Linked DNA regions of Homo sapiens: all the other regions are linked to region 3. The links come from fine-mapping of genetic effects on plasma protein levels. Region 3 holds a variant in brackets. A gene starts in each other region. All regions are shown on their forward strands. Region 1 holds the start of PLXDC1 (plexin domain containing 1). Region 2 holds the start of CD248 (CD248 molecule). Region 3 holds the start of GAL3ST4 (galactose-3-O-sulfotransferase 4).

The links. PIP is the chance, under the fine-mapping model, that this variant and not a neighbour inherited with it causes the effect. The UK Biobank Pharma Proteomics Project read protein levels with antibody pairs (Olink). The fine-mapping took linkage between variants from a reference panel, not from the people measured, so its PIPs are less certain.
Region 1: PLXDC1 starts here. The variant in region 3 is fine-mapped to the plasma level of the PLXDC1 protein (UK Biobank, PIP above 0.99).
Region 2: it holds the start of CD248, and the variant in region 3 is fine-mapped to the plasma level of the CD248 protein (UK Biobank, PIP above 0.99).

Annotation. Positions count from the first base shown.
Region 1 is chr17:39,148,131-39,156,300 of GRCh38, forward strand. PLXDC1 (plexin domain containing 1) reads right to left here and starts at 3,507. Exons shown (of 14, transcript NM_020405.5): 1 at 3,232-3,507. The coding sequence starts at 3,307. It overlaps TRC-GCA2-3 (tRNA-Cys (anticodon GCA) 2-3), which reads right to left and starts at 5,675; the gene lies at 5,604-5,675. TRC-GCA2-4 (tRNA-Cys (anticodon GCA) 2-4) reads right to left here and starts at 6,432; the gene lies at 6,361-6,432. RefSeq lists enhancers at 5,011-5,160, 5,533-6,039, 6,040-6,544 and a silencer at 6,421-6,490.
Region 2 is chr11:66,312,718-66,320,855 of GRCh38, forward strand. It overlaps CD248 (CD248 molecule), which reads right to left and starts at 4,327. Exons shown (of 1, transcript NM_020404.3): 1 at 1,777-4,327. The coding sequence starts at 4,310. The coding sequence ends at 2,037. RefSeq lists enhancers at 3,076-3,772, 6,329-6,830, 6,831-7,330 and a silencer at 4,256-4,525.
Region 3 is chr7:100,163,363-100,171,532 of GRCh38, forward strand. It overlaps GAL3ST4 (galactose-3-O-sulfotransferase 4), which reads right to left and starts at 5,255. Exons shown (of 4, transcript NM_024637.5): 1 at 5,184-5,255; 2 at 3,609-3,921; 3 at 3,140-3,443. The coding sequence starts at 3,733. It overlaps GPC2 (glypican 2), which reads right to left. Exons shown (of 10, transcript NM_152742.3): 9 at 7,899-8,074; 10 at 6,244-7,121. The coding sequence ends at 6,868. RefSeq lists a silencer at 8,101-8,170. The variant A/G (reference allele first, on the strand shown) is at 3,255.

The DNA.
Region 1 (8,170 bases), not on the chromosome of region 3:
GGGGCTGCCTGACCTCCATAAGTTCGCATTTTAGTCTCAGGTTGTTGGAGCCCTAGAGACAATCTGGTCCAACCTCCTTCCCTCCTTTTTTTAAAAAAAGATGGGACCTCGTTATGCTGCCCTCACTATGTGGCATGATCATAGCTCACTGCAGCCTCCAGTTCCTGGGCTCAAACGATCCTCCTGCCTCAGCCTTCCGAGTACCTGGGACTACAGGCGCACACCGCCATGCCCAGCTAATTTTTTATTTTAATTTTAATTTTTTTTTTTGACAGAGTCTTACTCTGTTGCCCAGGCTGGAGTGCAGTGGTGCGATCTCAGCTCACTATAACCTCTGCCTCTCGGGTTCAAGCTATTCTCCTGCCTCAGCTTCCTGAGTAACTGAGATTACAGGCATGCACCACCACGCCTGGCTAATTTTTACTAATATACTAATATTAATAATATTAATAACAATACTAAATATACTAATTTTTGTATATTTAGTAGAGACGGGGTTTCACCATGTTAGCCAGGCTGGTCTCAAACTCCTGACCTCAGGTGATCCGCCGGCCTCGGCCTCCCAGAGTGCTGGGATTACAGGCATGAGCCACCCTGCCTGGCCTAAATCATTTATAGACATGGGGTCTCACTATTTTGCCCAGGCTGGTCTCAAACTCCTGGTCTAAAGCTATCCTCCCACCTCAGCCTCCCAAAGTGTTAGGATCACAAGCATGAGCCACCGTGACTGGTGCAAGCCCCCATTTTATAGACGGGGAAACCTTCCTCAGAGAAAGGAGGAAGCTGTCAGGGTCACCAGTAGTTGGTATTGAGCCTGGCCTCCTGCAGGACTCCCAGGCCAGGATGCCAACTCTCGCTGCCTCTTCTTTATCTGTCATATGCACCTCTGGTTCCATCTGACCAGACTGTCAGTTCCCTGGGCCCCTGCTCTGCACCCCAAGGCCATTTTCCTGTCTGTCATCCTGGTCTCCCCTGCTGTCTGACTCTGTCTTTGGGCCACTCATCTCTCTGCTGCTGCTGTTCTAATGATAGATGAGGTTTCAAGGCTCTACCAAACAAGCCTGTCCATCAGGAGCGAGGGGAGATCTCAGCTACTTCCCAAGGCCCCCCACCAGCCCCACAAACCCAGAGCCTTGGGGAAGGATGCTAGCATCTCTTCAGGTCCTGCTCCCAGCTGCCCTTCCACTGGTCACAACAACTCCGCCATCAATCAGGTCAGGCTGCCCCTCCTTAGCAACTCTCCCCCAGAACGTCCTTCTCCTACATCTGGCCTCCCCAGACACCCGCTTCCTCCTCATAGGTCCTCCTGCCTGTGAAATCCCACCTGGCCTGTGAAAAGGGCACCGGACTGGGAGTCAACAGCTGCCGCCTCTGGCTTCTTACAGATTCCTTAAGTCTAACCTCTATCCCTCCTGCTGCAGAAAAAGTGCATTTCTCCTGGCTCAATCTCTGTCAAAGCCAAGAAGACAGGATAGCCTCTACTTAGAGAAGTGATTCAAGTCTCTGCCTGCCCCACTCTTCCTGGTCTCCTCAACCGTCTACTACCCCAACCCTACTCTGAAGGGGCCGCCCTCAGCCAGGCCCGGGTCTGGCCACTATCTCCCAGCCCATCCTTGTTACCTCCCAATTCCCCCTTCCCCAGCCCTCTCCGTGGTTCACACAATCCAGCCAAAGGTTCAGATCCTCCCCTCATAAACTCTGTTACACCCAGAGTTCAGAAGATCACACCAGGTTGAGGATTCAAAGGAGCCCAGAAATTATTCATAACATATCCAACTCTCTCCTGTTTACCTTGATTTTTTTAAAGTATCAGTTACCCATAAAGACCCTAACAAATATGAAAAGGAAAGGCAATTATAAAAGATCCTTCATTATTCCACGCACAAGAGTCAAAGATTTTGCCAACAGCCTCACTTTATAAATGCAAAAATAGGTCCAGAGAGAGAAAGTAACTTGTCTAAAGTCACACAGCAAGTGAGATGGCGGGACTAGAAGCCACGTCTCTGGCCACCCTCTGTGTGGTCTCCCTGAAAATTGGTGGTTCTCACCAGCAGCTTCTCGGTTCGTCAGCTCCACTGCCCTCTGCCCATACTTCCCACTGTCAGCCTCCTTCCCCTCCCACCCCCAACATACTCTTCTTCTCAATAGGGACCCAGGTCTGTCTCAGCTACATGCTGGGACCATTAAAGTCAAGAACATTGCCACTGACACTGTGCCTGGTGCCAGCACACTCCTGAGACACAGCAGGTCAACCACAGCACTCACCTCAACAGCGCCTCCCTCACCCCACCTGAGGGGCACCCATGCCAATGATGCACAGGTATCTATCTTCTTAATCATCTCTGCTGAGGGGCCAGGCTGCAAATTACCCATCTCCCCAACCCCAGAGAAAGTCTAGGTGCTTAGGGGAGAACAGAGACTATGAAAATTATACCATGAGGGATTCCAGGTAGATCTCAGAAAGGACTTCCAGGTGGGAGAGATGAGTTTGGAGAACTGGTAGGGGGGAAGAGGAGTGTGCAGAATGGGACGCCTCCCTCCACCCCCTACCCCAGTGCCCCATCTAGAGCCAGAGTAGCTGAAAGCCAAAGGCTGCCAGGGCAAATGGGAGCAGGTGTGAGGAGGGGGACTCTTGAGGCTGGGGGTGCAGAAGCAGCAAGTTGCTTCTTCCTGGGCCCACTGCCTCTCTACTGACACCAAATAGGCAAGGGAAGGTGACCGAATGGCTGCTGCCTTCCCAGGCAGAGACGCTGTGTCCCCACCATCCCCCTGGCTGCTCCCACCTATCCCTAGCCTGGATCAGCTTTGGGGTCGGGGGTGTGGCAGAGAAGAGGAAAAGAAGGCATGGCTGGGGCAGGGGCCTCCCCAGGCTCCCATCTCATCAGAATTCAGCCTTGCCTGGGGTGATCAGGGGTCCTGATGACTCTCCCGCTGTCCCCTTTCAGAGCCCATGGCCACATAGAGCCCCCTCTCCTAAGGTCCCTCCAGTATCCTTCCAGGAGAGAAGGAGAGGTCCGGGCATCGGTGTCTCCACCGTCACTCACACACCCTATGTGTTTGGGAAAGTGGGGTCCCTATCCACCTGCCCACAGCCCACAGCTCTCCTGGCCTCCTGCGGACAATGCCCCCCTCGCGGACATCGCCAGGCCGTCCACACCTGCCCATGCCCACACCTGACTGCCCGTCCCTCCCCGCCCCCGGCCCACCCGGGCCGGCTCCCGCCAGTCCTACCTGCTCCGGGCTGGGGGCTCAGCGCCCGGGCAGCCTCCCTGAGCACCAGCACCAGGAGCCAGAGCTCGCCTCGCATGGTGGGTGCCCGGACCTGCCCCCGGCCTGCTTGCTGCCCCGGTCCTGACGAGGGAGGGGGCCCTGGCTCAGGCTGCGGCCGCGCGGTCCCCGGGGCTGGCGGAGGGGCGGGCGGCGAGGAGACGGCGGAGCGCGGGGCCGGGCGAGCCGGCAGGAGCGGCGAGAGCGCGAGCGGAGCTGGAGGCTGCGGCCTCCGGGAGCAGGCGGGGAGCTGGGGGGGCCGCTGGGTCGGTGGGGGTGGGGGGGAGCTGGGGCAGGGGGCGGGGCGGGGGGCGCGGCGTCGTTGGGGGCTCTCCCGGCGCCTGCCCTCAGCCCTAACGGAGCGCTCCCCTAGAGCTCTGCAGCCGCTCCCAAGGCAAGGGGTGCAGAGTAGGGGACAGGGCGGGAGCCCCTCGGGCTGAGAGAACCCCTAGAAGCATCAGCCGCCCCGCGCTCCTCACTGAGCTCCTGGCTCCCTTTCCCTCCTCCGTTCCGCCGGGAAAGCTGCAGAGAGAAGGCCCGAGGACTGGACCCCTGGAAGGGACAGGCGCCCCATCCCTGGGTCACGGGCCCCTGACTGTTCCCCGCCCCCAGCTCCTCCAAGCTCTGCGACTTCCTGAGCTGTTCTTCGGAATTCTGTGCGTCTCTGATGCTTTGTCCTCCAGCCCCCACCCCCAGAAATCTCCCCCTGCAGCAAAGACCCCCAGCTTTTCTCCCCAAGAGGGGCCTGAATCCCACCCCCCTTCCATGACTCCACCTTATCCCTCCACCCCCCATTTCCAGCACCGATTTGCCCCCCAAGCCTAGCAGACGTGAGGGTGGAGGGGGCCTGGCTACCCCTTACTCTGCAACAGTCTGGACCCCTCCCCACGAGTAGGTAACCCAGGCCTCCTGCCTCTCTGGGGCCTCCAGGCCTACTCAGGGCCAGACCCAATCAATCTTCAGAGCCAGCCCCAGACGAGGAAATGGCTCACCCCACCTGTCACCACCTTCTGACAGGCTCTGGGGATAGATAATCTTTTTATTTTTTCTTCCAGGACAGAATAAAAATACCCGCAATGTAGGATATTTAATAGACGGCAAGGAATCAGGTCAGGACACGAAGATGCCTCTTCCCTCCCCTGACCTACTTCGTTCTTGTGACGGCAAGGAGCTGGGGCGCTGGAGAGTGGGAGACGGGGTGAGGGGGCATCCTGGCTTCTAGTGGGCTGGGGCCTAGGGACTAGAAAACCGCGGAGAGGAAGGGTGCGAACGCTGAGCGCCATTGGAGAAATTTTCCAGGAGGAGGGATATGGGCGGGGACAGGAGAAGGTACACTGTGGGCTGGAAGAGACGGATTCCGTGGCACTGAGGTTAAAAAAAAAAAAAAGAAAAGAAAAGAAAAAAAAACACCTAAGAAAGGAAACAACTAAAGGCTCTCTAATCTCTTAGAACGCCGGTTCCTCCTTCCGCCGGGCCCAGAGTCCCAGAGACTACCTCCTCCAGCCCTAAACCCAATGTCCCCTTACCGTGGAACAAGGCAAGGCCGGTCTGTAAATTCTTCTTGATGTCTAATTTAAATCCCAACTTGGCGGACTCTCAAACAGAATCAGATAGGCAGCTACCTCCAGCTGCAGCTACTTGCTGCCCTCAAGTGGCCACGTGACGAGCCACAACCCTCTTGTCCTGCGGGTTTCCTCTTTCCCCAGCCTGCCCACCCCCTGTCTCCGACCTCCTGCCTTCCTCGAGGTCAAGGTGAGAAGTCTCGGGACGGATTCCAGCTCCAGCCCCGGCGTCTTTGCACATTCCTCCATCTGGGGTACCTCGTGGTCTGTCTTACAAGAAGAGCTCAGGCTGAAACATAAACTTGTAAATAGTAGAAGCAAATGTGTAAATTTTAACGTAAGCCTCTAGAACTTGAGATCGTAATCACCTGCAGGGTGTGTGTGTGTGTGTGTGTGTGTGTGTGTGTGTGTGTGTGTGTGTATTTTGTTTGTTTTTTGAGACAGGTTCTCGCACGTTGCCTAGGCTGGAGTGCAGTGCTGCGATCATAGCTCACTGCAGCTTCCAACTCCTGGACTCAAGCGATGGGGAGCGTATATGAAAACACAGATTTCTGGACTCCACCCTCAAGTTTCTAATTCATTAGGTCTGGGATGAGGCCCGAGCGTACCCAGGTAATGCTGCTGGTCCCAGGACCACATTTTGAGAGCCACTGCTGTTGAATCCCCAGTTCCTTTCAGTCCCTCACTGCTCCTCGTCTGCCAGTAGGAGTAAAAGCAAACAGCTTAGGAAAAATCGACACCCAGGACAAAAACAGTATCTCGAAAAGGCCAAAGAGGGGGCACCCGGATTTGAACCGGGGACCTCTTGATCTGCAGTCAAATGCTCTACCACTGAGCTATACCCCCTCTGCCGGCAAACCGACCGCACGTAGTCGTTTAGTGGTATTGCTGCGCAGGCGCTGTGTGGCGTTCCCGAAGGGAAGTGGAAGTGGGGTAAGACGTTTACAAGAGATGGAAAAAATACAACTCCCAGAAGAATTACTCACTTGGAAGCAGGGGTTGTTCCCTGAAGCTCTGAGCTGAAGATCCCCACTGGCAGTATAAGAAAATATATTCCTGGGGTGTGGAAGGAGAAGTCTCTCGAAATATTTCACTTCGGGGGCGTCCCACTCTCCTGCCCTGCAGAAGACCCCTTGCCACGTCTCGGAGCTTCTTTCTCCCTCCCACATGCTCACGCGGCTTCTCCCGACCTGTCTTCCCCAGCCCAGCCCTTAGAAACTCAGCCTCCTTCCCGCCAAGAAAGAGCCAGGCTGACCTGGGGGTGCGCTCGCCTCCGCCCTGCCATTGCGAGGTTGAGCCACCCGTACCGTGTTCCAAGGGTCAGCCCGGAGCTCCTCGCCCTCACTCGCATTGCATTCTACCCTGGGTACACACACAGGCTGAGCCACTGGCAGGGGCCAGGACTCCATCCTCACTCGCCTGCGAAAGCAAAAAGGGTGGCAGGGCTCGAGACTCCCTCCCATTCCATCTGTGCGGGAACTCTTTAGAGGACCTCCGGAGACCAACAAAACGAGGTAACTCCGGAGCACAGAGGGGGCACCCGGATTTGAACCGGGGACCTCTTGATCTGCAGTCAAATGCTCTACCACTGAGCTATACCCCCGCCACGCCACTACGTTGTCATTAGAGTTAATTTCTATGGAATAGGGGTGTGGTCTTCATTTTCCCTTAAAGTTTTAATCTGAGGGTTGCGTCGGGATACCTACTGAAAAAAACACAAAATACAATGGGAATGGCTAGAACTCCTGAGTTCTTCCTTCATAGCCACGCTTTCGGAAAACCAACTAGATTAAGGAATCTTGGGCCGAGAGCGGTGGCTCACGCCTGTAATCCCAGCACTTTGGGAGGCCGAGGCGGGTGGATCACAAGGTCAGGACATCGAGACCTCCTGGCTAACACAGTGAAACCCCGTCTCTACTAAAAATACAAAAATTAGCCGGGTGTGGTGGCGGGCGCCTGTAGTCCCAGCTACTCGGGAGGCTGAGGCAGGAGAATGGCGTGAACCCTGGAGGCGGAGCTTGCAGTGAGCCGAGATCGCGCCACTGCACTCCAGCCTGGGCAACAGAGCGAGACTCTGTCTCAAAAAAAAAGGAATATTGGGTCCTCTATATCCGTGCCTAGACTCTCCCCCAAATGTCCACTGACTGGCTTGAGAAAAGGACTGTCCCCAGGACCGCCCCAGGTCCAGGGATGTACAGATGAACAGACTGGATCTCCATCTTGTCTCCTGGGCTTTTCCAACCCCAGGGTCGCTCCTCCCCTTCTCTCAAACCAAAAGCCAGTTTGAGGAACAGACAGAGGAGAAGGCTGAAATAAGAGGTAAGCATTTTTCAATAGCATTTACTACAGCCTTATAAAAATCCTAATACAGTATTTTTTTTAAAATCCTGGCCGGGCGCGGTGGCTCGCGCCTGTAATCCCAGCACTTTGGGAGGCCGAGGCGGGCGGATCACGAGGTCAGGAGATCGAGACCATCCTGGCCAACATGGTGAAACCCCATCTCTACTAAAAATACAAAAAAATTAGCAGGGCGTGGTGGTGCGCGCTTATAGTCCCAGCTACTCGAGAGGCTGGGGCAGGACAATCGCTTGAACCCGGGAAGCGGAGGTTGCAGTGAGCCGAGATCGCGCCACTACTGCTCTCCAGCCTGGGCGGTAGAGCGAGACTCCAACAATAACAACAACAACAAAAATCATTACACAAAGACAAACAAGCAGCCCCTTTAGGAATCTGGTATATTTGGGAGGAGTGGGATTCAAATTGGAAGGACACTAGAAGTAAAGGGGATGCTGTGGGGTGGCTTAAAGTCCAAGAGCTGTGGTCAGAGTCAGCATCTCAGAGGGAATGGGAAGACGAGGAGAAGTGGAATCCCTGCAGTGCAAAGGGCTGTCCCTATCTGGGACGTCCTGTCCTCCTCCATTTCCCCTTCCAGTTTTTGCCTCTGCCCTCCTCCCCTTGAGCCCACCTTCTTCACCTTGCTAGAATCTCCTTTGCCCAAAGGGAATGGGACAAAAATGGCTGAGGGGCTAAAAAGCCTGAGGGTGGAAGGAGGTTTGAGGAAATGAAGAGCAATTCCAGGGTTTTTTGTTTTTGTTTTTGTTTTTTTTTGAGTCGGAGTCTCTCTCTGTCGCCCAGGCTGGAGTACAGTGACCCGATCTCAACTCACTGCAACCTCCGCCTCCCAGGTTCAAAGGATTCTCCTGTCTCAGCCTCCCGAGTAGCTAGGATTACAGACGCCCGCCACCACGTCCGGCTAATTTTTGTATTTTGCTTTGTTTTGTTTGAGACGGTGTCTCGCTCTGTCACCCAAGCTGGAGTGCAATGGCACAATCTCGGCTCAC
Region 2 (8,138 bases), not on the chromosome of region 3:
CAATCTGCGCGCGCCGAGCGGAGGAGGTGGGGCTTGTAGGTTGTGGGCGGGGGACTGGGCGGGGCCAAGAGGGCAGGGGGCGGGCACAATCGCTGCTGGAATCTTTGAGTTGGCAGGGGCGGGGCTTGTGGCTTTGTGGGCGGGGCCTCTGGAGAGCTCCCGGGGGCTCTCTTCTGTTCTGCAGCGAGTAGGCGTGGCTCGTAGCTCCCAGGTCCGGGCTGATACCGCTGGAGTATGCAGTTCGCCGCCGCGCCCGAATGAGGCGGGGCCTGCGAGTAAGTGGGCTGAGCCCGGGCTGGGCGCAGGCCGGGGCTCTGCCCTGGGAGGCCGTCTGTTTAGGCCCGCACGCAGCTCCGCATCTGGTGCTCATTACCAGATGACAAAGAGCCGGCTCTGGGCCCCCTTCCCCACTCCCATCCCCCGCCTCCGACTGCAGTGTATTTAACTGTTTCCTGCCCTCGAGGCGCTCTAGATCCCTACCCGAGGTCACGGAGGGGACTCCAGACCATCCCGTCTCTGCAGGCCTTGTCGCTCCCCAGGCTTCCTCACCTCCTTCCCAGACTCAGCCGTCTGGGCCGCCTCGCAACCCTCATTGGCATCCAGCAAACCTGCCCGACGGCGTCTCCGAGGTTAAAGCTGTGCAGGATCTGGCGGGGACGTCTGGTTTGAGTTAGGGGAACGTGAGAGCGGGGACCGGGGGCGGTGCGTAGCGTTCCCTCCGCCCCCTCCGCGACCCCCTGGTTCATCCCCAGCTCCGGCCCCTCCTTTCCTGGTTCCCTGGGGCCCAGCTCAGCCTTCCAGCTCAGGTCCAGGCCCGAAGGGGGCGCTGGGCCACTCCTCCTCGCCTGCCCGGGTGGTCGTGGCGGCTCTGCCCCGTCCTAATTAGAGGCCCCCAAGAGGCTGTAACTGAAAAATTACAGAGGCGGTGGGAACTGGCGCCTCCCCTCCCCAGGTCTCACCCCCGCCCCCCAAGGCAGTGAGCACGAAATGAGGGAGGTCACTCCCACCAGGCTGTGATCTTTGACCAGGCCCTCCAGTTCCTGGGACACTTCAGTCCTGAGCAGCCGGAGCCCTCGCTCAAGCTCAGGTCTGCTGAGCTCTGTCTGTCCCCCACCACCCCCAGCCAACATGGACAAGAGCAACGTGCGGCCCTGGCAAAAGGAGGCCTTGCTCCTGCGGCTGTCCAAGCAGTTAGCATGGGATCTCTCCCAGGTTCCCGGCCTTTCCCATCCCAGCCTCCTCCCCGGAGCAAGCGGAGGAATGCCTCCAAGAGCACCCACAAACCAGGGGTTGGCAGTCCCCTTGAGTTACCCTGAGCCCCAGCCCCCAACTTCCGCGAAGCTTACAGGGATGGGAAGGGAAGTGTCTGAAGAAAGGAGCAACTCACCCACTAGACCCCTCCTTCACTCCTCTGAATCACCAGCCCCAGAGCCTACTTTGACCCCTAAACCCCAGTCCGGTTCAGCAGATGCCCTAATTCCACAACCGTCCCCCAGATTCAGCCCCACCTTCTTGGAGCTTTGGTAAAATAAGGAATAAATATGAAATTCTCCCCATGCCAAACCTCCCACTGCTGGGCTCAACTGTGTGACCTTGGGCAAGGCTCTGCCCTCTCTGGGCTCCTGCTTCCCTGAGAATCTCTGAGGCATACCCTCCCTTAAAGGGATCTTACCTTATCTCTTTGAGGACTCAGACAAACTGAAGGAAGATCCCCTCCTTTTTGCTGAGTCCTCCCAGAACCTCCCTTAAGCACCAGTGGGGGTCAGAAGCCTTGGGTAAGGTTGACACCCCATTTATTGGAGAAGACCCCAGCACCCGCCCCCTGAGGTCTTAAGGGCTTTGGTGTATCCTTGGTCACGAGCGCTGGGCCAGGAAGCAGAGTTCCTGAGAGCCAAGTCTAGTGGTTGAGAGAGGACCCTGGCTGGGCCTGGGGAGCAGGAAGCCATCTGTCCAGCTGGGCAGCCCCCATGGGTCCCTGGTGCAGCCCCGGCCATGTGTCCAGCGCCCCATACTCCATGAGGGGGGTCTGCACCCCATCACACGCTGGTTCTGCAGGTCTGCACCCCTGTGAGGCTGCCCCTGGGGGGCATGGGTTCTGTTGGGCTCTTGCTCCCAGCATGGATGACCCAGCGATAGCAGTCAGTGATGCGCTTGTTGGGTGCATGGGGGCCACAGCGGGTGCAGTACACGATGCCCAGTGCAAGCAGGACCACCAAAAAGACACACGTTGGCACCAGGAGTGCCACCAGCAGCCACCGGTCATCCCTCTGGCTGTGCTCGGCAAGACCAGCCTCCCCCAGGGCTGTTGGGGCTGCTGTGGGAGCTGGTGAGGGCAGCCACAGGGCCAACTTGGGACTGGGGCCATCTTCCCTTGGGATTTGGGGGGCTTTGGAATGGGGATGTGTAGGGCTGATGGGTGAGGTCTGGTTAGTGGGGCTCTGAGAGGGCAGGAGGGTGGGGAGGGCTGCGGGCTGGGTGGCAGCAGGCACAGAGATTTGATGGGCAGGAGACACAGGGGACCTGGAGGTGGTGGTCAGAGAGGGCTGGGCAGTTGGGATAATGGGAAGCTGGGTGGCCTGGGTTCTGAGGACAAGGGCATCTGGGGCTTGAGGGGGTAGCTGGGCACCGAGGGTGGTGACCAGAGGGGCATGGTTAGGTGGGATTCCAGGCAAATGAGTGGTGGTCTGGGTGCCAGCGACCCGGGTGTCTGGAAACATGGGGGACTGGTGGGCAGGGAAGAGCTCCGGATATTTGGTTGAGATCATAGGGGGCTGGTGGGCAGGAGGCTGTGCTGAATGAGAGACAGAGAGAATACCGGGTTGGTAGGCAGAAGGCAGATCTGGATAGTTGGCTGCGATCACGGGGATCTGGTGGTCACGGGACAAAGCTGGGTGTGTGGCAGGGATCACAGGAGGCTGGTGGGCAGAAGGCAGTGTGGGATGCGTGGCAGAGACCACCACAGGCCGGGTGACGGAGAGCACTGAGGAGTGGTAGGGGACCCTGGGGGCACTGAGCGGGGGTGGCCAGGTGGGCTCCGGGTAGGGTATCTGTGGCTCTCTGTCCTCTGGGAAGCTCGGTCTATAGGCCAGGGCAAAGTCAGGCGGCTGCGTAGGCTCCATCCACAGGATCCCAGGCATCTCCGTCCAGCCACCGTTGAAGGCCTTCCAGGCCTCGTCTTCATCTTCCTCATCCTCCCCGTCATCCAGCAACTCATCTCCGAGGTCCTGGGAAGCCTGGGCACCCATGGCCCCTGCAGGGCTGCAGCTGATGCCATCAGCCTCCAGCTCATGTCCCTCGCTACAATAACACTCGAAGCCACCAACGTAGTTGACACACATCTGCTGGCACACACCGGCAATCTGGCACTCATCTGTGTCCACACAGCGGTGCGGATCATCCTCCGCTGGCCGGAAACCCAGGCGACAGTGGCAGCTGTAGCCTTGTGGCCCACCGGGCTCACACTGCTGCTCGCACGGAGCCTGGGCACAGGGGTCCTCGCAACTGCGCCCGTCTGCTGCCAGCCGGAAGCCCTCAGTGCAGCGGCAGGACACGTGACCATCCACCTCCTCCACACATTCGTGTTCGCAGCCCCCGTTGTCAGGGCTGCAGCCAGTCCCCAGGCACAGGGGCCCAGCCCGTGACCAGCCCACACCTCCCTCAGGCTGCTTCACGCAGAGCAGAGAGGCTCCCCTGCCAGCCTGGCACTGCACAGCGGCCACAGAGCCGAAGGGCAGCCACTCAAACTCTGTGGAGACCAGGTGGAAGGGCGTGGTATACACGGCTGGGCCGGCCTGGCCCGCCTCATCTTGCAGCGCCGGGCAGGCGCCCTCGAAGCCAAACTGGCACAGGTAGCCGTCGACAGCCAGCGTGCACGAGCCCTCCAGCCAGCGGTGCTCGCCACTTGCCTCCAGGGCCACACAGCGCTGGGCCGGGCAGGGGCCTCCAGAGGCTGGCTGGGCCCAGTTGGTGAAAGCCGTGTCCTGGTCCCCTGTGGTCCACGTGAAGCCGCGCAGTGGGCGCTGCAGCTGGCATTGCCGGGCCTGCCGCTGCAGCCCGATCCACAGCAGCCGGCTGGCTGGGCCCGCACCCACCAGGCTGTCCACACGCTGGGCCTCCTCGGGGGTCCGAGGAGTGGCCAGGTCGCCCCCCAGCTCGCGGCAGGCCCGCCAGGCCTCCAGGAAGGTGCGGCGCCGTGGGAAGAGAGCGTAGCAGCTGCTGGGGCCGCAGGCGGCACGGGGCTCAGCAGCCCAGGGGTCCTGGCCCAGTGTGGGCCCTGCGGCCGCCCAGGCCAGCAACAGGCGCAGCAGCATCGCGATGCCCCCGGACTGGTCCGGCCCCGGGCTGGCGGCAGCTCTTGACAGGGGGAGGGCCTGGGGCCTCCTGCGGGCGGGCCGGGGGCGGGCCTGGGGCCGGGCTCAGGCCTTGTAAGGAGTGGGCTGGGGCGGCTGCCAGCTCCCTGCTCCCTCTTCCCCGGGGGCCGCTAGAGCAGGAAGCAGTGGGGTGGGGGGCTCTAAGGTTGGGGGCGGAGGAGGGGAGAAGGCGCAGTTGACGGCTGCCCCAGGCCCCATGGGGCTGAGAGTCAGGGGGTGGGAAAAGCCTGCCTGCCGAGCTCTGTGACCCTCAAGTTGGGGCTCGGGGCTGTGGGGTGAGGTCGCTTCCCAGAGACTCAGAGACCCAAATCTGGACACAGCAGCCCCATCACACCCGGGAGCAGTCTCAGCCCAGCTGCTCGCCATGCACGGGAACACCCTCATGCCCACTCCTTTCTTGCCCCACAGACGCGCGCATGCGCCTCCCCCACCCCCAACCCCATGCAAGAGTGCACTCTCTGCCAAGCTGTTTGTCCCTTCACCTCACCGTGGACCTATGCTGGCTTGCAGATGACTCCCTTGCCACACGTACACACATTCTGACATGCTGAGACCCTAGGTGCACATACAAAAATGGTGTGGCATTCTACATGGCCTGACATATGAAGACCTCCGATTCGGCCTGAATGGAAACAGCTTGGTCACCCAGGCACAGGCATCCTCAGCCTCTCATTTATTTACTGAGCCCCTGCGTCAGCCTCTCCCCCTATACTCAAGCTTTCTGGTTCCAGCTGGGCCAGCGTGTGGGGGTGTTGGGGGAGTGAGGGGGCCAGGGGCTGCCCTCCCCTCACCCCAGCTCAGCCTGGGGCCCTGGGAACCTGGGCTTAGAGGGGGAGGAGGCAGCCCCTAAACAGGAAATGCCTCTCTGGGCTCCTGCGTCAGGAAGGCAGGGTGCGTGGTTTAGGGGGCTGGGTGGGGGCTGGGCTGCACGCAGGATGTGGAAGGCTGTGAGGGGACCCATGCAAGGCCATGTATGGGCATGGGGCACACAGTGACATATATGTGTATATGTGACACAGGCATCACGTGTGTGGAGCCCTCCCTGCCCCCGGGGCCTGCTGTTTCGGCCTGGCCAGGGTCCTCTTCCCGCCCTTCCTGGAGGCCTCTGGAGGCATGTGCACTGAGCCCATCATCCAGGATGGCCTCTGGGGAGCTGGCTGGCGGATTAACCCATGCACACCCGCTGCACTCTTAGCAGAAGTTAGAAACAGTGTGGGGAGGTGGGGGAGAGGTTCCGCCCTTCAGTAAACTGCCCTGATGCAGCTTCCCCCTCTGCCACAGATGGATCGACTTTGTGACTGCAGGGGAGTCACTGGCCCTCTCTGGGTCTCCTTTTTTCTCAGTTGCAACATGAGGGCAATGAGTCCAGGATTTTTAGCTCAGCAGGGCTGAGATATTGCGTCACAGCGCTCAGTGTTTGCAAATGTGCTTTGTCAGCTGTGGAGCCTGAAGCAAATGTTCCTGTCTTCTGAGCATATGTGGTGGGTGGAGACCAGGGTGCGTTTTTGCAAACCACCTTACAGTGCCTAGGCTGGCCCTGCAGACCCAGCCAGCCCCTCGAGAACCAGGGCTTAGGAAGTTCTTGCCATATGCCTGGAAGTTCCTTCTTACAAGGTCTATACATGTGAAGCACACAGAATGACTCCCCTTCTCAGGAGACAAAAGTCAAGATGGAGGAGTTCATCCTTCTGTTGGCTCAGGCCCCAAACCTTGAGGTCATGCTTGACTCCTCTCTTTCTCCCACAGCCCACATCCAGTCTCTCAGCAAATCCTGTTGGCTTCACTTTCAAAAGAGATCCAGAATCTGACCACTCCTGGACACCTTCTTTGCCACCCACCCCCGGCCCAGGTGGCTAGCAACGCCAATCTAGATTTCCCCAACAGCCTCTCCCGTGGTGTCTCTCTTGCCCTCTCCATCCTGCCAGAGGGATCCTTTCAAAATCCAAGTCAGATCTGATCACTTCTCCATTCAGAACCCTCTGAGCCCCCCATCTCGCTTAGAGGAAGGGCCACAGTCCTTGCCATGGCCTCCTGGTCTATGTCATCTGCCTCCAAACTCTGGCCTCATTGCTGTTCCTTAAATGCTCCAGACACTCTGCCTCACAGCCTTGGTCTTGGCTGTTCCTGCTGCCTGGAATGCTCTTCCTCCAATATAAAAATGCTCTGCTTCTTTACCTTCTCCAGGGCTCAGCTCAAGTACCAGAGTCCTTGACCATCTCACCCCACCCCACACCGCCCCCTGGGGCTCCTTGACCACTGGATCTTCCTGCATTTTCTCGCTCTGCACTTATCACTATCTGACATTAAATATATTTACTTGTGAAATTAGTTGGACGTGGTGGTGCACCTGTAATCCCAGCTACTCGGGAGGCTGAGGCAGGAGAATCATTTGAACCTGGGAGGTGGAGGTTGCAGTGAGCCAAGATTGCGCCACTGCACACTCCAGCCTGGGCGACAGAGCAAGACTGTGGAAAAGAAAAGAGGAGAGGAGAGGAGGGGAGGGGAGGGGAGAGGCGAGCGGGAGAGAAAAAGAAAAGAAGGAAAGATGTTGGGAACAAGCCCCCCAAAATTTGGCCATAAACTGGCCCCAAAACTGGCCATAAACAAAATCTCTGCAGCACTGTGACATGTTCATGATGGCCATAACGCCCACACTGGAAGGCTGTGGGTTTACCAGAATGAGAGCAAGGAACACCTGGCCCCGCCCAGGGCGGAAAACCGCTTAAAGGCATTCTTAAGCCACAAACAATAGCATGAGTGATCTGTGCCTTAAGGACATGCTCCTGCTGCAGTTAACTAGCCCAACCTATTCCTTTAATTCAGCCCATCCCTTCGTTTCCCATAAGGGATACTTTTAGTTAATTTAATATCTATAGAAACAATGCTAATGACTGGCTTGCTGTTAATAAATACGTGGGTAAATCTCTGTTCGGGGCTCTCAGCTCTGAAGGCTGTGAGACCCCTGGTTTCTCACTTCACACCTCTATATTTCTGTGTGTGTGTCTTTAATTCCTCTAGCACCGCTGGGTTAGGGTCTCCCCGACCGAGCTGGTCTCGGCAGAAAGAGAGAACGAACGAAAGAAAGAAAGAGAAAAGACTTACATGTTAGACCTAAAACCATAAAAACTCTAGAAGAAAACCTAGGCAATACCATTCAGGACATAGGCATGGGCAAGGACTTGATGTCTAAAACACCAAAAGCAATGGCAACAAGAGCCAAAATTGACAAATGGGATCTAATTAAACTAAAGAGCTTCTGTACAGCAAAAGAAACCACCATCAAAGTGAACAGGCAACCTACAGAATGGGAGAAAGTTTTTGCAACCTACTCATCTGACAAAGGGCTAATATCCAGAATCTACAATGAACTCAAACAAATTTACAAGAAAAAGCAAACAACCCTATCAAAAAGTGGGCGAAGGATATGAACAGACAGTTCTCAAAAGAAGACAATTATGCAGCCAAAAAAAACACATGAAAAAATGCTCATCATCACTGGCCATCAGAGAAATGCAAATCAAAACCACAATGAGATACCATCTCACACCAGTTAGAATGGCGATCATTAAAAAGTCAAGAAACAACAGGTGCTGGAGAGGATGTGGAGAAGTAAGAACACTTTTACACTGTTGGTGGGACTGTAAACTAGTTCAACCATTGTGGAAGTCAGTGTGGTGATTCCTCAGGGATCTAGAACTAGAAATACCATTTGGCCCAGCCATCCCATTACTGGATATATACCCAAAGGATTATAAATCATGCTGCTAT
Region 3 (8,170 bases):
GGTTTCTGCCTCCAAAAATGACTTCCATCATTGAATCTGACTTCTGTCTGTCATGGTGTTCCTCAATCGGCTCTGCAAGTATGGCACACCTGAATAGCAGCCTGTGAACTCTCTTTTTTTTTTTTTTTTTTGAGGGGGAGGACAGGAAATGAGCATTTTAGCTTTTCAGTGTTTATTTTCTTCTTACTATTTTTTAAGAGACAGTGTCTCCTTGCTCTGTCACTTAGGCAGCATATCATAGCTCACTGCAGCCTTGAAAACTCCTGGGCTCAAGGGATTCCCCAATCTCAGCCTCCTGAATAGCTGGGACTACAGGCACACACCAACATTCCCTGTTAATTTTTAATTTTTTTGTAGTGATGGGGTCTTGCTATGTTGCCCAGATTGGCGTTGAACTCCTGGGCTCAAGTAATCCTCTCACCTCAGCATCCAAAACACTCGGATCACAGGCATGAGCCACCATGCCTGGCCCTGCAGGTCTCTTTGAAGGCAGAGGGGAAAGCGAAGAAAACAGTCTTTGGCATCTGGACCTGGAATAAAATCCCACTCTGCCATTTACTAATTCTGTGACTTTGGGCGGGTTATTGAAGGTCTCAGAGCCATCATTCCTCCATCTAGAAATCTGAGTAACTGGGTAACACTTACCTGGAAGAATGTGCAAGTGTCTGGAACATGGTAGGTATTCAGTGAATGGTGGCGTCAGTGAAGGCCATCATCCTAGCCTCTGGAGAAACCTACCTCAAAGGTCACTGTCATTGCCTCACTCCTGGCAGTGGCCTTTCGCTGCCCATCAGAGCACGCCCATGTCCTCAGCTGGTGTCTCCAGCTCCAGCTTCAACAAGGGTGACTTTGCAGCCCCTGTGGAACTTCTACCCCCAGTACAGACGTTCTCCCTCTTACATGCACACACACACGTGCACCCCACCATGTCCTTGCTGGTGTTTTGCTCCCTCTAAGAATGCCTCATGCTGTCCTTACCACAAGCCACATCCACCTTTTCCTTTAAAACCCCCCGCTCTCGGCTGGGCACGGTGGCTGACACCTGGAATCCCAGCATTTTGGGAGGCTGAGGTGGGCGGATCACTTGAGGTCAGGAGTTTGAGACCAGCCTGGTCAACATGGCGAAACCCTGTCTCTACTAAAAGTACAAAAATTAGCTAGGCGTGGTGGCGGGTGCCTGTAGTCCCAGCTACTTGGGAGGCATGAGAATTGCTTGAACCCGGGAGGCAGAGGTTGCAGTGAGCTGAGATCGTGCCACTGCACTCCAGCCCAGGGGAAAGAGCAAGACTCTGTCTCAAAATAAATAAAATAAAAATCAAAATTAAATAATAAAGTAAAATAAACCCCCCTCTCCAGAAAGCATCACCTCTTTGGTGAATATTCTTCTCACCATTCCAGATACAAACACATGCACAAGCCTCGGAAGAAGCCTCGACTTTGGAGTGCATGGACCTGGGCTCAACTTCCAGCTCTGCCACTTTAATTTTCAATTTTATTTATTTATCTTTCTTTCCTTTTTTTTTTTTTTTTGAGACAGAGTCTCACTGTGTCACCCAGGCTGGAGTGCAGTGGCACGATCTCAGCTCACTGCAAGCTCCGCCTCCCAGGTTCATGCCATTTTCCTGCCTCAGCCTCCTGAGTAGCTGGGACTACGGGCACCCACCACCATGCCCGGCTAATTTTTTGTATTTTTAGTAGAAACGGGGTTTCACTGTGTTAGCCAGGATGGTCTCGATCTCCTGACCTTGTGATCCACCCGCCTTGGCCTCCCAAAGTGCTGGGATTACAGGCGTGAGCCACTGCGCCCGGCCTTTTTTTTCTTTTGTGAAATGGAGTCTCGCTCTGTTGCCCAGGCTGGAGTGCAGTGGCACAATCTCGGCTCACTGCAACCTCTGCCTCCTGGGTTCAAGCAATTCTCCTGCCTCAGCCTCCCGAGTAGCTGGGATTACAGGCGTGTGCCACCACGCCTGGCTAATTTTTGTATTTTTAGTAGAGACAGGGTTTCACCATGTTGGCCAGGCTGGTCTCGAACTTCTGACCTCAGGTGATCTGCCCACCTTGGTCTCCCAAAGTGCTGGGCTTAGTCCCGGGCTAAAAATACAGCTGATCCTCAAAATGTGAGGGGGTTGAAGAAGACAAGTCAGAAGGCAGTGGGGGAGGTGGGGCCCTGGTGTGACAGTGAAAGGGAGGCTAAGAAAGGGAAGGGGCGTGTTGTCCTAGGTACTTGCCAGGCTGAGGTGGGAGGATCATTTGAGGCCAGCCTGGGCAACATAGTGAGACTCCATCTCTACAAAAAATAAAATAAAAAAATAGCCAGGTGTGGTGGCATGCACCTGTAGTCCCAGCTAGTTGGGAGGCTGAGGTGAGAGGATCGCTTGAGCCCAGGAGTTTGAGGTTACAGTGAGCTATAATTGTACCACTGCATTCCAGCCTGGATGACAGAATGAGACCCTGTCTCACACACACACACACACACACACACACACACACACACACAGGCTGGGCAAGCTCACTCCTGTAATCCCAACCCTTTGGGAGGTCAAGGTGAGCAGATCACTTGAGCCCAGGACTATTTATTTATTTATTTAAGCCCAGGGGTTTGAGATCAGCCTGGGCAACATAGCAAGACCCCATCTCTACAAAAAATTAAAAAGTAGCCACGTGTAGTGGCACATGCCTTAGCCATAGCTACTCAGGAGGCTGAGGTGGGAGGATCACTTGAGCCTGGGAAGTCAAGGCTGCAGTGAGCTATGATTGTGCCACTGCACTCCAGCCTGGGCGACAGAGTAAGACCCTGTCTTCCAAAAAATAATTTAAAAACAGAAGAGTAAGGGGCACCTGGAGGGAGAGTTGGGGGCTCAGAGTTGGCAAGGCACTGATGCCAGGGAAATACATTGGTGAAAGAGAGAGACTGGAGTAAGCGCCAGAGAGAGAAGGGAGGAGGACTTGGGCTCCCAGAAACTACTGGGGAAGGGACACCTGTAGAGAGGATGGCAGGGAGCCCAACTTTGTGGCCCCTATGTCCAACTTTAGGGTGAGATGATGCCTGGGGAGCCCCCAGGTCTGGGCCCCCTCCCTTGGTGGTGTCAGCCTGAGCCCATCTGTTTCTGGTCCCTCCCACCACTGCGACACTCCTTACCTCTTTCAGGTTGAACCTCATGTGGTGACAGAGGATGTGGAAGGGGAGCTGGGTGCCTCCACCCTGTGGGCGGTAGCCTTTTACCCTAGAGGCCTGGAAGAGCTTTGGGTAGCCA[A/G]ACTGGTAGCGGGCAGGGAGGGCGAAGCGCAGCCCGTGCTGGTCCCCATAGCGGTGAAGCAGGCTCAGCACAGAGCTGCTCCCGGATTTATGTGTCTTCAGGAACACCAGTCGCTGCCGGGGTGGGCAGGACGGAAGGGCTGGTCGTAGGGATGGGGCCGAGGGCTGTCGGAGCTGTAGCCCAGGTAGCCTGGGAAGAGATGGAGGGGGAGTGTCCTGTTCCTCAGCAGCAAATGGGTAGAAGGGACAGAGGGCATGGAGGCTTCTGAGTCCTCAGGAGTCACCAGCCCCAGGTGGGATGGGGAAGAGCAAGTACGGGGCGTCTAGAAGGAGTTGGGGCAAAGTGGGAACTCACCTCCTCTGGAAGGGCCCTCCCAAGAGCTGGAGTGCAAAGCCAATGGTCATGAAGACTCCCAGAGCCACCCCCAGGCTCCGAGGTCCCCAGAGCCGCAGCGTCCTGGCAGGAGAGAGAGGGCCCATGTGGCACAGGGAAGGGTGAGGTGACAGAGAGATGGAGCCAGGGCCAGGAAGAGGGGCAGAGACAGCTGGAGACAGCCGTGCAGCTGCGGAAGGCACTGGTTGGAGATCGGGGGGTCATTCCCCAGGCCTGCTCACAGTCTTGGTTGAGTCTGCCCCCTGAGTTAGCAGATTTTTGCCTCTGTCAGCGTCTAGAAGGGAAATGAGGGGGGAAGAAGGGAAGTCTAAGGAGAGAGGCAGAGGCAGCCTTCTCTCCTGCTGCAGCTGAGACCTCCTTCAGGGAAGGGGAGTGGCTGGGGATGTTGTCTATACCCAGACTCTCCTAGGTGGCCCCACAACTACTGTCTCTGCTCTATCACTTTCTTATCTCCAGTTCCTCCCGCTCCCCACCTACAGTTGTCCCTGAGCCTTGGGGATTTATAAGGGAAGGAGAGAAAAAGCCCCAGCTCGTGAATGAAACAGCCAGCAAGAGAGAGAGAGATCAGATCAATCAGCTCATTAACACAGTCAGGTCAGACCATGGTCGGGAACCTGGTTTCCTCCAGAGCCCCTCTGGCTGTCACAGATGGGGATAAAGAGCCCTATCCCAGGACCAGGAAGGGAAGCCATACAGTGGGAATGAGGATCAGACAGGACACAGGTGTATGAACCCAGGCAGGAGGAAGGGAGGTTGGACTTCCAGGAGTGGCATTGCAATGGGTAAGAGCCATTGGGTTATAAATTCCCGCGCCTCTTTTTTCTCTGTCTCAGCACGGGGCAGACCCCCATGTATGACAGGGGCTGGGGGAGACGTGTGGCTACTTATAAAGCCCAGATCCCTGGACTTACCCACCATTCCACTTTCCAACCTTATCAGTGCACCCGGAGGAGACTGAAAGGGTGGGGCTGGAGAGGGAGACAGAAAGAGAGAGAGACACACACACACACACACACACACACAGAGAAACAGAGAGAGAGAGACAGAGGGACAGAGAGACTATGACACAAAGATAAGGAGAAAGGCGCAAACACTAACTGCAGAGTTCCTTCTGAAGCCCGAGCTTCCTAATCAACCGGGAGTCCAGCCCCGCCCCTTCAGATTACAACTCGCGATCAGGGACCACGGCCCCTCCAACAAGCCCCGACAGCTCCCTGCTCCGATGAGCCAGGGGTAACCCCAAGCAGAGAGAAGCCACACTTTTACTCCCGGAGACCTGCCCTCTCTGGCATCACTCCCCAATTCCCTCCCTGATCACAGCCCCTGGGGTCTAGCCGCGTCTCCCCTATCCAGAGTTCTTCATTTCCTTCCATCCATCTCTCCCTTCCCATGATTGGAGATCCCAGCCCTCTGTCCCCTCCAGCTTTGGTGACTGCCCAGTTGCCCCCGCTGGGGTTCCATGAACCCCTCATGTCTCCTCCCATAAATTAGAGGGTCCCTCCACTGGTCCTATCCTTGGTTTCACTTCCCACTCACCAGGCCACAAGGGGAGCAGCAAGGGAAATCGGGCCGGGCCCTCCCGCCCATCCCAGCCACCGCCCGACTCTTGGCTCAGCTCAACTTTCCCCAAGAACTTTCTCAGCGCCCAGGCTCCTCCCTCCTCCCTTTGTGCCGCCAGCCCCAGCAGCTGCTGCAGCTTTGATCGCGGTTCTAGGTCTCTCCCTCGCTGCATCTTCCCCTCTTCGGCAGGGCACCCAGACTCCTCTTGGAAGACACCACTTCCGCCCCCGCTTTCACACTTGGGAATCAATCCTACCATTTTCTCTTGGCTTGCCGCAGAACAAAAGATTCATTCAGGCGGTGGAAAGAAAGAAGGAAGGAAGGAGAAAGTGATATTTGAAAGCAGACATTGTCAAGGACGTGGCAAGGTAGCCAGAGACTGACACTCAGAGAACAAGGCCTCCCATCCTGAAGGCAGGGGGCAGTGGTGTGGTCACCTTAATAATGCTTCGTGGCCGGGTGCGGTGGCTCACGCCTGTAATCCCAGCACTTTGGGAGGCTAAGGCTGGTGGATCGCTTGAGGTCAGGAGTTTGCGATCAGCCTGGCCAACATGGTGAAACCCCGTCTCTACTAAAAATACAAAAATTAGCTGACTGTGGTGGCAGGCGCCTGTAATCCCAGCTACTCAGGAGGCTGAGGCAGGAGAATCATTTGAACTGGGGAGGCGGAGGTTGCAGTGAACTGAGATCGCGCCATTGCACTCCAGCCTCGCGACAACAGCGAGACTCTATCTCAAAAAAAAAAAAAAAAAAGCCTCATGTTCAAAGAGCATTTTGCAGGTGACAAGGTGCTTTTTCACACAGATTCTATTTGGTCCCCACAATTCTCCCTGTTGTACAAACGAAGATGCTCAGAGGCCCAGAGGGTGGGCAATTTGGAGATCAGAGGTTATTGTCTAGGCCCGCCTCCTGGGGGACAGGTGCCAAGGGAAGTGAAAAGCCGGCAGAAAATGAGCCAGTCACAGAGGCTCTGAGACCTCTGCTAGGAGCCAGGGCTCAGGCACTGATGGTGACAGCACAGAAGCCACACATGGGGTCCAATACATTACCATTTATTTGCAGAATAAACATGGACTCAAACACTGAAACATGGAGTTTGTGAAGGATGTGGGTGGCAGAGGTCACGAGATGAGCACCCCCCCACCTTGTTTTTTTTAAAATTTGGTTTAAGAAATTGATACTGAAAAAACTCAACAGAACCCAGGCCCATGAAGTCTCACATCCTACTCAAGCACCCTCAGTCCCCTGCCCTGCATCCAGCTGGTCCATTTCTGAGACCAGATGCCCCCACCCCTCCCCACTTCCAACTTCCTTCAAACCCCTTCCCCAGCTGCAACTCTAAACTCCTCATTTTCTCTGTTGGGGCTGATCACCAGCCCCAGCCTTAGAGGGCTAGAGACTATACCTTCTAAGGAAACCACACTCCCTCCTAAATAAATACCCCCAGGCCCCCCTCCCATTACCAAATGAAAAAATAAATATTGTGAACACCCACCCACCTCTGATGAAAATCTCCTGGATTTGGGGCCCCAGCCATTCACCTGCAAAGTCCCTTCTCTACCCTCTCTGCAGCCCCCTTCGACTCCTCCCCAGGCCCAGCTGAGGGGGGAGGAGGGGAAAGGGCCATGAACCCTTCTGATGCTAGGGCACCCCTCCCCCGTTATCGAGGTCCAAGCAGGGCCAGGGCTGAGAGGGAGAGAATGAGGATGGTTTGGGTGTGAAAACCAATAGATGCCCCCCCACTCCTGCTCCGGCCCTGGTTGTAGCGGGCACTGCCACCTCCTCCTTTGCCCCCAGAACCATCCCTTCTAGGAGGGTATGGAGGCCGAGGAGGCCGGGCTGGGGGAGCCACAGCCCCAGCCATCCAGTCATCTGCATACTGCTGTCCCCCTCCAGAGCCGCTGGCATCCTCATCTGCAAGGAAGAAGAGGGACAGAGCAGGATGGGAGGGAGAAGCAGAGGGAGACAGAGGGAGGAAAAGAAATTGAGATAAAAACAGAAAGAGAGAGGAAAGGGAGGGAGACACAGGTGGATGCCGGGTTGGGGAAGGGAGAAAGACCATGAGTGACAGGAAGGCAGGGAGAGAAGGAAGGAGAGAGATCCGACAGCAGACATGGGGGGAGAGATCATGATGGGAGACAGTGAGACAGAGAGAAAAAAAAACAAAACAGGCAGATGGGGAGAGAGGATAACAGGAAAAAACAGAAAAATCAGAAGTACACAGAAGCAGAAAGCAGCCAGGAAGAGGGGTGCGGGAAGAGTGACAAAGAGAGACAGAGACAGACAGATAGAAGGAGAGAAGAAAACAATGAGTGTCTGTGCCTTGCTTCTCTGTTTGGCAAACTCCACCCTGCGGAGCCAGCTCAATGTCACCCACCACCCTGGCTTCCCAGCCTCCCCCAAATTGCCCCCTCCCCCATTTTCCCACTGCCCTTTGCCCATTATAAGGGGCTTCCCACTGTTCTTTAAGAATGTTTTCGTGTCTCCCCTACTGGCCTGAAAGGATACAGACCCCCTCATTGATCTGTTACCCCCAGTCTTTCAGGGCAACGCTCAATAAATGCTCGTTGAATGAATTAGTGAATTAATCAATGAACGCTAAGAGCAGAGGCACGGGCGGGAACTACCAGGAGAGGGGAGAGGCTTCAGGGCAGTGGGCGGGGCTCAGGCTCAGGGATGCAGGGGTCTCACCCGCGTCCTGCCCGTCCAGGTCGTGTCCCAGTGCGGCCGTTTTCATTCTGGCCGTGGCCGCCCGGAGCTGTAGCCGACGCCGCCGTGTCGGGACATCGGGGCCCGAGGCGTCCACCTTGAGCTCGGGGTTGTTGACCTGCTCGGCCGGGGAGCCCCCGACCACTGGCGGCAAGTACCTGCGAGCAGAGCAGCCCCGAAGCGCCAGCTAGCGCGCGCGGCCCCGCCCCTCCCGGCCGCGGTCCCGCCCCCTGCTGCCCCCCGACGCCCCCGAG